Linked DNA regions of Homo sapiens: region 2 is linked to region 1. The links come from fine-mapping of genetic effects on gene expression. A gene starts in region 1. The other region holds a variant in brackets. All regions are shown on one strand. Distances are from middle to middle.

Region 1 (2,922 bases):
TACAATTAAGTTATTATTGACTATAGTCACCCTATTGTACTATCAAATAGTAGGTCTTCTTCATTCTTTCTATATTTTTTTGTACTTATTAACTATTCCTACCTTCCCCTCCAACTCCCCACTCCCTTTCCCAGCCTCTGGTAACTATCCTCCTACTCTATAGGTCCATGAGTTCAATTGTTTTCATTTTTAGATCCCACAAATAAGTGAGATATTACTATTTTGTTGACTATTATTTTGCTGAAGATTTTTGCATCTATGTTCATAAGTGAAATTGACCTATAATTTTCCTTTTCATTACTGTCCTGTCTTTTTCAGGTTTAGGTTTCGAGATCTTGCTACAAGTCTCATAATTTTAGTATTTTTTAAATGCTCCCTCTTTTTCTACTCTCTGGTAGAGTTTGCATAAGATTGGAATTACTTCATACCTAAACGTTTGGCAGAACACACCACTGAAGGACAATCTGGGCTGGACTTTTTTGTTTTTGTGAAAAGATCATATACAATTTTTTAATGCTTACAAGGCTATTCAAACTTCTAATTTTCATTGAGTGCATTCTGATGTTACTTTTCAAAGGAATCAGTCCATTTTACCTACCTTTCAAATTTATTTGCAGTTGTTTATATTATCCTATTATTATCTAAATCTCTGCAGATCTGGAGTTATTAATCTTTTTTTTTTCCTGACATTGGTTATTTGTGCAATCTCTCTTTTTCTTGATTATTTTCAACAGAAGTTACTGATATATTTAGGTATAAATTTACCATCTCATTGTATGTTTTCAATTTAGTCTACCTGTTTTACATTTCTTTTGTTCTCTGTGATGGTTAATTTTACATGTCAACTTGACTAGGCCAGGGGGGCCCCAAATATTTGGTCAAACATTATTCTGGGTATGCCTGTGAGGGTGTAAATTGGTAGACCAAGTAAAATAGATTACCATTCTTAAAGGGCAGCTCTCATCTGCTCAGCTGAAGGCCTGAATAGGACAAAAGGGTTGACCCTTTTGCAAGTAAAAAGGAACTCCTTCCTGAGTGCTTGACCTGGGACATAGATCTTTTCCTGTTTTTGGACTTGAACTGAAACATCAGCTCTCCTTGGGTCTGGAGTCTGACAGCATTCAGACTAGAACCCCACTATTAGCTCTCCTGGGTCTCCAGCTTGCTGACTGCAGACCTCAGGACTGTCAGCCTCCATAATCACATGAGCCAACTCCTTATAATAAATCTCTTATATGAATATATAATGTCTGACTAATATAGACAATCTTGCACCTTGCTTTAGAATGTAAAGGTACTTAAGTACCTACAATTTTGCTCTCAGCCTTTGGGGCCTCTGTTAAACCTTAAAGTCAACAAGAGAAGTCACATTAAAATTCTGCCAGACTATTACTCAGTAATTTTTTAAACTCTTTCCTAATTTGGATGATTCAAATGGGGATCATCTGTGAGGCACAATAAATATTCAGACTTAGACCTCAGACCTGGATGAGTTATGTTCCTCTCCTTCCCCCAACTGGCTGCACGAGTGAAAACAAAAATGGGCTAGTTGTTCCCATAGGGTCCTATGAAAACAAACAGTTACCTTTTGAGTTTGCTCTCTTCTCTTGTTTCAAAGTCCCCTCTCTTTCTTCACTCATGTCCCCACAAGCAGGTATAAACTTTCTCTCACTAGCAAATAACAGAAACTGAAAAATGATCAAAGGAAGCTACTGCTGCCTGCATGCTGCTGGGAAAACATCGTAAAAGGAGCACCCAGCAACCTGTGACCATGGAGATGGTTTGTAATCAGCAAGCCAGGGCCCTCGCTTTCCTTCCTTCTCTGGGCATCCAATAGACGGTTGGTTTAGAAACTCTGAGCCCACAGACTATTTTCCAACAACAGCTGCATAGCAACAGGGTTCCTATGCTGTAAACCCAGCAGTCAAAAACTGCTCGTGTTTGCTTATCAAAACCAAAGTTACGATAGCAGGCACACCGGGCTTCCTTTTCTAGCAGTAGGGCAGATTTGATATCCTGAACTACCTTCTCGACTGAAACTAAGACCCTGGATAAAATATGTAAGAATGTAAAAATAAAACCACATCGTTGAGCTAGCACAAAAGGAAGAGAATCTACAAAGGCCAAAATGAAGTGAAAGCAAGAACTCGAAGTAAGCAGGCACCAAAGCCACCTTTTGCCCTGGGTTTCGGTTTCGACAGCTGCAACCGCTTGGGGTTTGTGAAGTAAAGCCTAAAATGCCATTAATATAGACAGTGTATTAGGAGACCTCACCCAAACCTGGTACCTCCTCCCAAAGGATACACCCTCAAGGGAAGAGTAGACAAGAAATAAACCCATCATGCAAAAGACGACAAAGAAATGTATACGTTTTGGACTTGGTGTTGGAGTGGGGAAAATCTCCCCTGAGACCTTGTCACCACAAGCCAGCCTTCAAATGGATTTGTTGTCTGAATTAACACTATGGTACTGCCTTGAGATGATTTGCAGAAGGCAAAGAAAATCCTCTCTGGAGGAATAAAATCTCAACTAAGGACTCAAAGAATTCCCACAAATTTCCAAGGAAAGTAAGCAGTTTACAGCTTTAAAAAAATCACATAATACACAAGGAACAAGACACTAAAATCAATACGTAGAAAAGTCCACAGGCAGCAAAGTCTGATCACAGAGAGTTCAGATACTAGGGTTATGAGACATATAATACAAAATGGTACTACAACTCCACCCTTGCTTATTTTCCTTGTTTCCAAATGCAAGCCCCCATCAGTGTCTGGTTCTCAGTCCCATTCTATTTCTGCAGAAACACTGCTCTCGCTTTTCTTCTCCTTCAACCTCTCTCTCCCCAGGCACCTTCCCCCAGGACTATGAACACATTTAAATCTTCCCCATTAAGAAAGGAAGGAAGAAAAGGAAAAAGAAAAG
Region 2 (2,883 bases), 150 kb after region 1:
AGAGACAGGGTTTCACCGTGTTAGCCAGGATGGTCTCGATCTCCTGACCTCATGATCCGCCCGCCTCGGCCTCCCAAAGTGCTGGGATTACAGACATGAGCCACAAAAGTGTTCTTTTCTTAAAAGTACACTTATATTTACGTGTGTTTTGCATTTACATTAGGAAATATTCTAAATGTTTCTAGAAAAAAGCTTCTGGGGGAAAATTATTTTCTCATCCCGTTATTAAAATTTATCAAATTATTTTATAATATGACATAATTCTAAAAATGCAAAGTTGCCCCTAAACCTTGTAATCATTTTATCTATAATGCCAAAAAACCTACCTTCTCTTCTCTTTCTATTTCAAGTTGCTTCTTAACAGACAAAAGTTCAGCTTTGAGATTGGATAGTTCAATCTCCTAAAGAAAAAGAAACATGAAGTTTAGAAGAGCTTCCATGTATTTCTCAAGACAATGAAAATATAAACTAGTGCTCTGAGTAAATTTAATATTGTAGAGAAATAAATTCACTCATAAAATGTAGATACTTTTAAAGTCAACTGATATAAAGGCTGCTAGCTTAACATAGCTAAAAACCTCATTTAAACAAGTTTTTGGGCTGGGTGCAGTGGCTCATGCCTGTAATCCCAGCACTTCCCTGGGAGGCAGAGGCAGGCATATCACTCGAGGTCAGGAGTTTGAGGAAAGCCTGGCCAACATGGTGAAACCCCGTCTCTACTAAAAATATTAATACAAAAATTAGCCGGGTGTGGTGATGCACACCTGTAGTCCCAGCTACTCAGGAGGCTGAGGCCAGAGAACTGCTTGAACCCGGGAGGTGGAGGTTGCAGTGAGCCAAGATCATGCCAGTGCACTCCAGCCTGGGGGACACAGAAAGACTCCAACTCAAAAAACAAAAACAAAACAAAACAAAACAAAATCAAGTTTTTTGTAGTTTTCTTTAAAGAAAACTTCAACACAAAGTATATCTCTCCTCGTTCTCTCCCAGTTTATCCCACCCTCCTCTCCCAATTTCAATCAGAGGTCCAAACTTATTTGTTTACTGGAGTTTATAAAATTTCACTTGAAAAAATAGTTTGTTCCACTATTTCAAAAACTAAATTAGAAAAAAACATGTAACTAGAAGATCTATAAGATCCCTTTCAGAGTTAAGACTCTGATTCTATAGCTCAAAAATTAGTTTTACTTAATATTATTCTTTACCACCAGTCACTGCTGACATTATGAAAACTGGCCGTTACTGCAATTTTTTCTGTATCTCACCAAAGATGCTCTCAGTGATGACTGTTCTTGTTCTTTGCTCTTATAAAGTCCTAATTCTGAGTCTCTTTCTTCAATGATCTTATCATATTGGTGCTATATTAAACAAAGAAGACATTTTAGATATATTAAAACTGAATAGATTATAAGATTGGTATCCTAACATATTTTAATATTTAATTTA[G/A]TATTTAATTAATTATTTAGTATTTAATTTTGCAGAAACTTATGTTTATAAATTCAGTAATATATATGGGTATATATTTTTAATGTTTCAATTATATTTTTTCATTCAAACAACCTCAATAGTGAAACACACAACAGTCTTGGAAATAACCAAAGAGCAAAAGATAATTCTTTTATCTTTGGAAACATTGAATTTTAACATTTAAAAATTTGCCAGAAACACCAGGGCTTCTACAAAACTGACTGATTTCAAATCTGGGACAGGAAATACAAGCCTTAAACTAGCATTAGGAGATATACCTAATGTAAATGATGAGTTAATGGGTGCAGCACACCAACATGGCACATGTATACATATGTGACAAACCTGCATGTTGTGCACATGTACCCTAGAACTTAAAGTATAATAAAAAAATTATTACATCAAAAAAAGAAGCCTTAAACATTTTGTCATAACTCAAAGAAAGTTATCAGAGAAAATTACAGTTAAGTCAAAAGGACTTGCCACACAGCTTAAAGAGGCTCCTGCTAGCCAAAGGTGGGAAAATGTGAGTTATCAATAAGGACAGATGCTGCACTGGATTGAAACATACCAAATGTGTTCAAATCTATGAGTTCACAATGTTATTTAAATTATTTTTTAAATCCTCACCACTTCCCTCATAATAATCTCGTATTCCAGCAGCTTTTTTTTTTAATTGAATAGGTAGGTATACCCTACCTCTTCTCCAAATCTTAAGGGGAATGAGGCTTAATTCCTTAACAAATGGATACTCTAAAACAACAATTAAAAATATAAGACAAAAACACATCAAACACTAAGTATTTCATCTATTTATTCCTTTGATAAAAATTGATTTAGCCTATTATATGTTAGATATCAATGAGATACTTATCCTGGTTATGTACTTAAAAATATATAAGGTAGAAAGTGCTATAAGAGACTATTAGCAGAATCCAGAAAAAGAGTGATTACTTCCATTCATCACAGATAACAAAGAGAGATTTCCTCAAGGATGTGACACACAGGCTCAACTTTGTATGGTTAAGATCTGAACTTGAAGAAATGGGCATCAAGGGTATTCTAGCTATAGACAGTCACTGTTGCATAGACAATAATCTTCTCTGACAAATAAGAATACTATCTTGATTTCACCATTATTTAACAGAAATATGGCTCCAATTAATAATTTTCATTATATAAGAAGAAAAAAATTACCTTATGTTTTTCCATAAGTGCTACCATTTCAGCTATTTTATGTTGACATCGCTTATCAATTTCTTTCTGTAATTTTACTGCTTCATCAGCTATTACTTTTGCTTTCTCAACCTATCAAATAAGCAAAAAAAAAAAGTTTCTTAAAATAAATGCACAAAAAACAAACAAGTGTAAAAAGTATATGTTCTACTTAAATAAAAGCAAACCTCAAACACCAGG

The links. PIP is the estimated chance that this variant, and not a neighbour inherited with it, causes the effect.
Region 2: its variant is the best candidate, but not a certain one, in a credible set for the expression of LINC01765 in whole blood (INTERVAL, PIP 0.79).

Annotation. Positions count from the first base shown.
Region 1 is chr1:115,098,415-115,101,336 of GRCh38, reverse strand. LINC01765 (long intergenic non-protein coding RNA 1765) reads right to left here and starts at 1,690. Exons shown (of 2, transcript XR_947722.3): 1 at 1,586-1,690. RefSeq lists an enhancer at 1,580-1,639.
Region 2 is chr1:114,944,764-114,947,646 of GRCh38, reverse strand. SYCP1 (synaptonemal complex protein 1) reads right to left here. Exons shown (of 32, transcript NM_003176.4): 25 at 2,665-2,775; 26 at 1,266-1,358; 27 at 327-401. Among named protein-coding and RNA genes, the nearest start is that of TSHB, 84 kb to the left of the region's middle. The variant G/A (reference allele first, on the strand shown) is at 1,447.